3 linked regions of the Homo sapiens genome follow. The protein of the gene in region 2 purifies or fractionates together with the protein of the main gene of each other region. This does not show direct contact. Each region holds a gene or a part of one and is shown on either strand. Other genes may lie near its edges.

Region 1 (2,837 bases), on a different chromosome or scaffold from region 2:
CTTTTACTTAGAAACCATTTGGTATGGAGGATTATATGTTTATGCAGGCAAGATTCCTTTTAAAGAGGAGATGAAGATGATAAAAGTTGTTTCTCCAATTTTTAATGAAACTTGCTTAATAATTCCCAAATGTTGGCAGGAACCTTGGAACCATTTTCCTAGAAATTGCTTTCCTTCTCTCCTTAGGCAGTGATTATGTAAATCACTCACTGAGTAATTAATATGTGCTACTTTGGGTGGTGGTTTTCTCTTGAGAGCTTCTCAGTTATTTCTACAACACTCCCTTTCTCTGCCCCATCCCAACCAAGAGTTGATCTCTCAGTATGCGTCTTTTTAACCTAGGAGAGCACTTAGAGGATTTGCTGCCGTATCTGTCACTGGTAAGGGCCTGAAGACAGGGCACGAATAGTACTCTGTCCTTGTGTGTGTGTGTCCTTGGTGCCCAACATGAGGGCTGGTACAGAGTCAGTCCCTGCTGAGTGTTTGCGAGGCCACTGGAGGAGTGGTTCATCTTTGCAGGTGGGCACCTTCCCCTCCAGCCAGACCATACCCCTGAGGGCCCAAACATAGGTGGCGCACAGTCGCTGGCACTCAATGATGGCCACGGTGAGATCACGTATATTTGCAATCTAGCAAACACCAATATGACCCCACAAAATTTGCTTTAAAAACTCACAAAGTGCTCTTGTCCCTGGCATACTGGTAAGTGCTCTCTTGTCCTAAAAATGCCTATGGATACACATGGAAGTTAAGCAGAGAAAGCAGGTAGCTATCAGATGACTGTCAACAGAGGAGTTCTTAGAGGCCTGAGAGAACCATGGGTTATAAATCTCAAGGACTCTATCAACTTCAGTATTTCAGTGCCTTCTTTATTAAAAAGTAAGTTCTTAAATGATATGACTTTTGGGACACCTTACTCTGTGTAGCTGATTAAAGAATCTAAGGACTTGCCTTGTGTTGATAGAATGATTGTTACTCTTTTCCCCTAAGATTAGGTCAAAGCTGAATGTAGAAATCTCAGTTCTAAGAAGCTAATTCTGTCAGTTTTAGAGAGACAGAAGGTGGACTTTGGGATTCAGAAGGTCTATACAAGGGCCTCAGGTTTTATAATTACATTCTTAATATTTCATGTTTGTGCATGTAATTTAGCAGGCCTAGTAAAGGAATTTTTACAGGTTTTGGGGAGGTACAAGATAACATCTAGTTTTAAAAAGCAAAACTTATTTTGTTTTGTATTTATTCAAGGTTATCATAGTGTTAGGTATTGAAATGTTTGACATATTTAAAGGTAATTGAGTTGTAAATAATAAAGCTGACAATAACAATATCCCCATTGACCCTTTGCTTCAAAGAAAAATAAAAAACACCCAGAATACTATCAGTTTCCTTGGTCTTGTGAATGTTTTGATCAGCAGCAAAATGTCATTCTGTTTCCAGCTGTTGCTAGGTGTTGCAATGTCTCAGCCTCAGTCTCTGATTTCTCCGGTTTCCATAACTAACTGCCTACACTTAAAAGCGTTTCTTTACCTACTCATTTTCCCTCAGGCCTTTCCATTTTTATCTTGTATTTTTCCACTCTTTTGGCAGACCTGCATGGGCAAGGACGTAACCCTTCACGTCTCAGCAAGCAACCCCGCTATGCTACTGTACCAGAAGTTTGGATTCAAGACTGAAGAATATGTATTAGATTTCTATGATAAATATTACCCATTGGAGAGTACAGAGTGTAAACACGCATTCTTTCTGAGGCTCCGGCGCTGATGCGAATACAGCTCACAGAGAAACGCATGTGCTATTGGAGAACAGGTCTTTGTGGAGATCTAAAGGCAGTGATTGATTTCACAGGGAGCTCTAATCTCTGTGATTACATGGTCCTTCAAACTCCCAACCAAAGTGAGAAAAGCGGCATGCAGTGAAATGAGCAGTGAGCAGCCCTTTAGCAAAATCGCCCTCCAGTCCTTCCTGGAGATGCCTTCAGCCAGCATCCCAGACTCCACAGTTATTTATGAATGATGTCGTGATTCTCCCTCCACCTGACAGTTTGTAAGAGTGAAAGAGCATCTAACCTGATGCTCTTGGAGAGAGATAACCTGTCTGTCATAACTTAAAGGATGAGAAAATGTGGTGTAGCTATTAAAGATTCATGCAGTCCCAAAAGGCACTGTCCTGGGATGATGAGAGATTATAAGGTGATTTCATAAAAGGAATCCAACCCTGTGCCCGGCCATTGATGTGTTGTCATTGAATCCAGGAGGATTTCTAGGGCACTGAAGTTTTGTTGTTTCTTTTGCTGACTTTGGTTACAGTCAGAAAAAATAAACTAGATGTTTGTGTCTACATGTTCTACCTGTTGTACCTATTAGCATCTTCCTGCAGGGACTTGGGCCCATGGCCTGGGAGGTTGGTTTGGGATTGGGGTTGTTGGGCAGCCTGCCATTCACCTGGCCTATCCTGGCCCTTCTCATGCCCAAGACAGTTGTTTCACAGGAGTGGAAGTGTGGGTGATGCAAGTAGAACCCTCTAGATGTACCCTGTGTGGTCTGCAGGACTGGACTGTTTGCTGTGTTTGTGGATGTTGGCGATAGACTGTCAATTAGGTTGTTTGTGATCCAACAAGAACATTTCCAAAAGTATCTAGGTGTTCTCAAATAAAAAGCTTTCTTTGCACAACCCATGGCCAGAGCGTCAATCTAGTCAGTTTGCTTTCAAACCCTCTTTAATTAAGATCAGTGGTTCTTAACTTTTTGGGACATGGATCACTTTGAGAATACAAAGAAAGCTGAATACTCTCTAGAAAACTGTCATGCACATTTAAAATTTTGCATCAGGGATCTGTC
Region 2 (3,500 bases):
CTTAAAAAAATCTAAAATGAACAAGTTTTTGTTTTTGAGACAGAGTCTTGCTCTGTCACCCAGGCTGATGTGCAGTGGCACAATCTTGACTCAATGCAACCTCTGCCTCCTGGTTCAAGCCATCCTCCCACCTCAGCCTCCTGAGTAGCTGGGACTACAGGTGTGCACCACCACACCTGGCTAATTTTTTGTTATTTTTTGTACAGACGGGGTTTCACCATGTTGCCCAGGGTGGTCTTGAACTCCTGAGCTTAAGTGATCTGCCTGCCTTGGCCTCCCAAAGTGCTGGGATTACAGGTGTGAGACACTGTGACTGGTCAACAAGTTATCTTACGGACCATCTTGTGTACTATGCACATGCTTTCATAAATCTCTAACAAAATTAGTTTTGCATCTTCTAATAACTTAGCTTTGAATTACAGTAGAGACAAAATGCATGCTCAGTGGACTGCCTACAGAGAGTTAAATACTTGTAACGTACCTGGGACTACTTGGGCTATGTAATTCATCAGTCCCACGGGTGGCCTCACTGAGACCAGGGCAGGAGTTATGCACAGCATAGACAGACATGCTGGGATGTTCAATGAGAAGGTTTTCCATAGGACTTGTTTCCACCTTGATAGTGGTTAATCCACCTGCAGTAAAACATGGGGGTGGGGTGATAAACCAGCTCTCCTCCATTGGACATGACTCAAACTGGAGAAAGCAGGAATCACTTGTATCAGCCAAGCACTCAAGAGATGCCGGTAAACAGGAAAAGACTGAAGGGTGCTCAGTAGGTGACTCTTCACTGATGTCCTCCTCTTCTTCTTCTTCTTCTGCTGAGAAACCAGTGCAAGTATCTAGATCGTAGTCCACATTGCAGTCCACATGTGTTGTTGAAGAGTCCCACAGGAGGATGATTATCACATTGGGCAGTCATTATAAAGTCACCCATCAAATTCACAGCACAGAAAAAGAAGAGATGATACTATTAGCTGATGCTCACGTATCTTCTTTTATTTAGTTCAGAAAACCATTTATATTCATCTATATGACTATAAATTTATTTCTGAGCACAGAAATTCTGTGTGTGTGTGTGTGTGTGTGTGTCACTATATGGGATAGATTTATGTTGGCTTTGCAGGAGTGATTTTAAGACTGTTTCTATTCTGCTGGATAACTATGTAATGAGACATATTGGTTACTACTTGTCTAATAAAAGGGGCTTCTAATGAAGTGCCCTTGATCTAATCAATCTGTGAGAGTTGCAAAACTAAAAAGTCTGATGTCAGTCAATTTCACTGACATTATCTAGCACAGATGGTTTCCTGCAATTTTTTAAAGACAAACTCCTGCTTACTTTTAAGGCTGAAAACCCCTCAGTTATTGGTTTCCTTATGCAAAAACTGAGATGCAAGTTTCCATTTTTACTGTGAAGATGAACCACCAAGTAACCAAGTGTACCTTACCTATGAAGTCAACAAGAATCCATTCATCATCTTCTTTCTCATTGAATTCTGGTTCTTGGTTGGAGGAAGAACTGACTTCACCCACAAACATTTTATTCAGCCTCTGGAACATTGTTAAGGCAAGACTGAGAGTTTGGCTGGATGTCTTTTATAGCTGAGATTTCAAAACCTTGTCTTTAGTTGGCCCAATGGTACCGACAGGAGATTAAAGTGCACAGGGTGCTTATTCAACTTAGGTGAAAAGCAAGAAGAGTCATTGTACCTAAAATAAAACAGAAAAAGGAAGTTATTTCAAATCAGCATGCACATATATACATAAGTACATACACATACACACATACCCTTAGAAGAAAGCATATGCCTTGGCCTACATTCTACAGCTATTCCCTTTCTGCAGGAGTCAAACACAAGAAATGCAACATAATGTTTTGTAAATACTCTTACTCAAATTCAACCTATAAATATCTTAAAATGTGAAATAAAAGGGAAAGAGTTGGTTCTTTTTCATATTTATGCTTTTATAATAAGGTGAATTTGAATAATATCCTTCAAACTTTTCTGCAAGCAGATGAGCAAATTCTAGATAGTAACAGTCTTGCTATATGTTATTCAACTGCTCAGAAGTCCCAGCAACAGTGCCTGGTGACCACCATTATGCCAGGCCCTCATCCTCCTCTGGCTCATTTTCTCTTCTACTCTGTACTTCTTGTCTATAACTGTAAGCACACCTGATTACACTTAAAATCTGTAAGCCCAGCAAGCATACTTTGACCTTCTAAACAATTCCTACAGCTGGCATGAAGAAATTTACACTGTAGGAAACTGAGCTTGGCCAAACCTAGAACTGGAAACACCCTTCCTGTGTAGCAGCTCAGCAGGTGGGTGCTGGGTCAGCCACCTGCATTCAAACCCTGGCTAGCTGCTCACTTGCTGTGTGAGTTAGGAAGTTATGTGACTTCAGCTGGCAACAGCTCCTACCTTAGGGAGTTCTGGTGAGTTCTAAATGAAGAACTCCAGGCTTGCTTGATCTTGGAATATTTATCCATTTCTACCTGGCTACCTGATGGGCGTATCAAACCAAACACATACCAAAGATAGGTTTTTTTCCCCCACAAACTTATTCATATACACTGCCCTTCATCCCTTTCTCAGGAAGCAGCAGCAGCTGGCAGTTATTCAGGCCAACACCCTAGCAGTCACCCTTCACGCTTTTTTTTTTTTGAGACGGAGTCTTTGTCTGTTGCCCAGGCTGGAGTGCATGCAGTGAGGCGATCTTGGCTCATTCCAAGCTCTGCCTCCCGGGTTCACGCCATTCTCCTGCCTCAGCCTCCCAAGTAGCTGGGACTACAGGCGCCCACCACCACATCCGGCTAATTTCTTTTTTTTTTATTTAGTGGAGACAGGGTTTCACCATGTTAGCCAGGATGGTCTCGATCTCCTGACCTCATGATCCGCCCACCTCAGCCTCCCAAAGTGCTAGGATTACAGGCGTGAGCTGCCGCACCCGCATGCCTTTTGCTCCCTCCTACTCACCCCTCATCCCAACCACCAAGTCCCGTCAACCCCAGGAGCACAGGCAGCTCGAATCTGCCTGCTTCCATCCACCACTCTCATCCTAGTTTAAGCCAAACTGTTGTCTCTGAGACTTTGCCAAAACTGTCTACTAGACAGTCTCCCTGATCCTACTCTTGTTAAAGGCAATGGACTTAGCAAAATACTTCGAATAAAGTCCTCAGTCCAGGTCAACTATTATTCTACATGTATTTACTGAGCACCTGTTATGCATCAGGTGCAGTGCTGGGCACAGGGGAGATGGCTGTGAACAGGGCCCTCCCACAAGTTTAACAATCCAGTGTGATGAATGCCATGGAAGAAGTATTTGGTGTTCTCCAGGCTACCTGGGTGGACTCCTGCAATGACTTTACTCTTGAGTGGCTGAGGTCAGTAATGGAGGAAGGGGGCAAAGGAACACTATGGAAGCCTGTGGATGAGTGAGAATGTGGCACCTTCAGTACCGCTCAAGGTCCAGAGGGAGGGTCACAATAGCAG
Region 3 (3,500 bases), on a different chromosome or scaffold from region 2:
GATACAAAAAGCCACGTGCTGTATGATTCTATTTATACGAAATGTCCAGAAACAGGCAAGTTTATCCACACAAAAAGTAGTTGCCAGGGGGATGAAGGGAGAGGAGAATTGAGAGTGACAATTAAGAGGTAAGTGGTTGCTTTTTGGAGTGATGAAAACATTATGGAATTAGATAGTGGTGATTTTTGTGCAACTTTGTGAATATACTGAAATCCACTGAATTGCACTCTTTTAACTGGTGTGTGTATATATATATGTGTGTGTGTGTGTGTGTGTATATATATATAAATTTTTTTTTTTTTTGAGAAGGAGTCTCGCTCTGTCGCCCAGGCTGGAGTGCAGTGGCGCAATCTCAGCTCTCTGCAAGCTCTGCCTCCCGGGTTCACGCCTTTTCCTGCCTCAGCCTCCTGGGTAGGTGGGACTACAGGCACCCACCACCTCGCCTGGCTAAGTTTTTTTGCTTTGTATTTTTATTAGAGACGGGGTTTCACCATGTTAGCCAGGATGATCTCGATCTCCTGACGTCGTGATCTGCCTGCCTTGGCCTCCCAGTGCTGGGATTACAGGCTTGAGCCACCGCGCCCGGCCGGTCAATATATATATTTTTTGAGACAGGGTCTGTCTCTGTCGCCCAGGCTGGAGTGCAGTGATGCAGCCGTAGGTCATTGCAGCCTTGAACTCCTGGGCTCAAGCGAGCCTCCCACCTCAGCCTACCAAGTAGGTGGGACTACAGGTACACACCACCATGCCCAGCTAATTTTTTTCTTTTTCTTTTTCAGTAGAGACAAGGTCTCCCTATGTTGTCCAGGCCGGTCTTAAACTCCTGGGTTCAAGCAATCCTCCTGCTTTGGCCTCCCAAAGTGCTGGGATTACAGGCACATGAGCCACTGTGCCTGGCCTAAAACAGTACCTTTTAAGTTAAGTGAATTATATTTCAATTAAAAAAGTATATCCACACTCTCAAATAAATTAAAACTTAAAAACAAAATACATAACAATCGCCAGTAGAAGCACTGCAGGTAAAGTTCAAGCCCCTCCCCACTGCATTCTCCTCACCCTCAGCTTTCATTACAACCACTTAACAGGTTCCCCACAGCTCACTCCTCAGACAAGCAGGATAAACAGCCCTTGCCTAGAACTAGTTCTACTTCTCCATGTCTGCAGTCATCAAAGTTCACATGCCTGAACATCTCACAGTTACTTTCCAATGGGCTCATATTTCACCTCTACCTTCTCCGCTTACCGAAATGCTCTTCATCCTTCAAGAATCAAATTCCGACTCATCCATGAAGTGAACTCCAGCCTTCGAAAGCTTTTTTTCCCCCTAACTACTACAGAACAGATGATATGGAAACAATCTGCATCAGGCCAGCCGCGGTGGCTCATACCTGTAGTCCCAGCACTTTGGGAGGCCAAGGCGGGTGGATCATTTGAGGTCAAGCGTTCGAGACCAGCCTGGCCAACATGGAGAAACCCTGTCTCTACTAAAAATACAAAAATGAGCCGGGTGTGGTGGTGCGTGCCTGTAACCCCAGCTACTTGGGAGGCTGTGGCTGGAGAATCACTTGAACACGGGAGGCAGAGGTTGCAGTGAGCCAAGATCGTGCCATTGCACTCCAGCCTGGGCGACATAGTGAGACACTGTCTCAAAAAATTAAAAAAATTACCTTAAAAATCTCAAACCCCTTAAACATCCCACATGCCTCATTCTTCCAGAAAAAGAAAGTTGAACCGGTGGGGTAAAGGAATGGTAAAAGTGGCCGGGTGCTGTAGCTCACGCCTATAATCTCAGCACTTTGGGAGGCTGAGGCGGGTGGATCACCTGAGGTCAGGAGTTCGAGACCAGACTGACCAATATGGTGAAACCCCGTCTCTACTAAAAATACAAAAAAATTAGACGTGGTGGTGTGCGCCTGTAGTCACAGCTACTCGGAGGCTGAGACAGGAGAATTTCTTGAACCCGGGAGGCGGAGGTTGCAGTGAGCCAAGATTGCGCCACTGCACTCCATCCTGGGCGACAGCAAGACTCTCTCTCTCAAAAAAAAAAAAGGGAATGGTAAAAGTTACCTAAAGTCAGCTTTCCAGGTGCATTAATGGAGAGAAGCAGTGGCATGGATAATTTAGAGGAGCTGTTTTATCCTACAGTCTTCTGTGTGCTAGTTTGCAAGGTTGTAGACAGCGTACTGGCCAGAATGGATTCTGGGGGCTGACCATATTAGCAAATTGTGTAGTCTTAAAGCCGTTTTATTTATAGGAAAGTTGGTGTTTTTGACCTGGAAATATATAAGACTGAAATAATGAGACAGTGTTTTTGAGCTCAGCTGTCTTTTGCTCAGCTCTTTACATGTTATTAGAAATGTCCCACATCACGTCAGTCCTAATGACCAGATCGCTCAGCTTCTCGCCATTCAGGTCCAGTATAAAATTTTGATTATTTTTACTTAAAAGATCTGTTTTTGTTTTGGATGCCAGATGAGTTAAAGAAAAAGTGATATGTTAGCCAGCAAATGGGAACATATTCAAAAGGTTTTGTGTGTCAGACCTGACTTAGAATAATTAGCATAGCATTTTTTTGTCGGTACTAACTCTGGTGAAAATCATAACAGAATCTTCTGTCTCCTAGAGTTCCCTTGGTCTGAGTCTGTCCTTTAATAGAGGTTGGTGCAAAAGTAGTTGTGGTTTTTACTTTTGCACCAACCTAATAGATAACTTCTCGTTCCTTCTGTTACAAAATGAGCATAACTTTGGAAAGACGATCAGGTGTATTTTGTTTTTTCAGTTCTTTGTATCAAAGGGAGGTGACAGTGTTAAGAGTAATGTTTAAATAGGTGGAGAAATTTTAATTGACATTGAAATATAGATTTTGATTTTTTTGATAGGGCTTCTGCATGCCTAATGATTTTCTCAGTATAATATTAAAATGGATATATATTCTTAGAGTGTACATTGAACAGTCTTTGGGAAGAGTGGATGGTGTTGGGGTGAAGCTGCTGCCGTATTTAGTTTTCAAAATAGAATTCAGGAAATGGATCATATGTATTTGGATTACTGAAAGTCAGTTTCATTAAAATGTTCCTAAAGGGGCCAGGCGTAGTGGCTCACGCTTGTAATCCCAGCACTTTGGGAGGCTGAGGCAGGCGGATCACCTGAGGTCAGGAGTTCAACCCTCCCTCTACTAAAAAAATAAAATAAAATAAAATAAAAAATAGCCAGATGTGGTGGTGGGTGCCTGCAGTCCCAGCTACTTAGGAGGCTGAGGCAGGAGAATCACTCCAACCTGGGAGGCAGAGGTTGCAGTGAGCCGATATTGCGCCACTGCAATCCAGCTTGGGCAACAGAGTGAGACTCCATCTCAAAAAAAAAAAAAAAGCTTCCTAAAGCTTCAACAGTAGACTTGTGTAGTACAAATCCCCTTCGTTCTAGATCTCCCCACTTTGGTTTTAGGATTTAGCCTTTGTTCGTTCTGCTTGTTTCTTTTTCTGTTGCTGGCAATAAAACTT

Evidence for each region.
Region 1: the proteins of TP53INP1 (region 2) and KAT14 purify together in Homo sapiens (affinity purification with mass spectrometry; one large-scale study listed by BioGRID and IntAct). This does not show direct contact.
Region 3: the proteins of TP53INP1 (region 2) and YEATS2 purify together in Homo sapiens (affinity purification with mass spectrometry; one large-scale study listed by BioGRID and IntAct). This does not show direct contact.

What each region holds. Positions count from the first base shown.
Region 1 is NC_000020.11:18,185,699-18,188,535, forward strand, and holds the end of KAT14 (cysteine-rich protein 2-binding protein), read left to right. Parts: intron 1-1,587; coding exon 1,588-1,761; 3' UTR 1,762-2,337; downstream 2,338-2,837. UniProt on the Homo sapiens protein: Component of the ATAC complex, a complex with histone acetyltransferase activity on histones H3 and H4. May function as a scaffold for the ATAC complex to promote ATAC complex stability. Has also weak histone acetyltransferase activity toward histone H4.
Region 2 is NC_000008.11:94,939,379-94,942,878, forward strand, and holds part of TP53INP1 (tumor protein p53-inducible nuclear protein 1), read right to left. Parts: intron 1,714-3,500; 5' UTR 1,564-1,713; coding exon 1,452-1,563; intron 843-1,451; coding exon 482-842; intron 1-481. UniProt on the Homo sapiens protein: Antiproliferative and proapoptotic protein involved in cell stress response which acts as a dual regulator of transcription and autophagy. Acts as a positive regulator of autophagy.
Region 3 is NC_000003.12:183,700,797-183,704,296, forward strand, and holds part of YEATS2 (YEATS domain-containing protein 2), read left to right. Parts: intron 1-3,500. UniProt on the Homo sapiens protein: Chromatin reader component of the ATAC complex, a complex with histone acetyltransferase activity on histones H3 and H4. YEATS2 specifically recognizes and binds histone H3 crotonylated at 'Lys-27' (H3K27cr).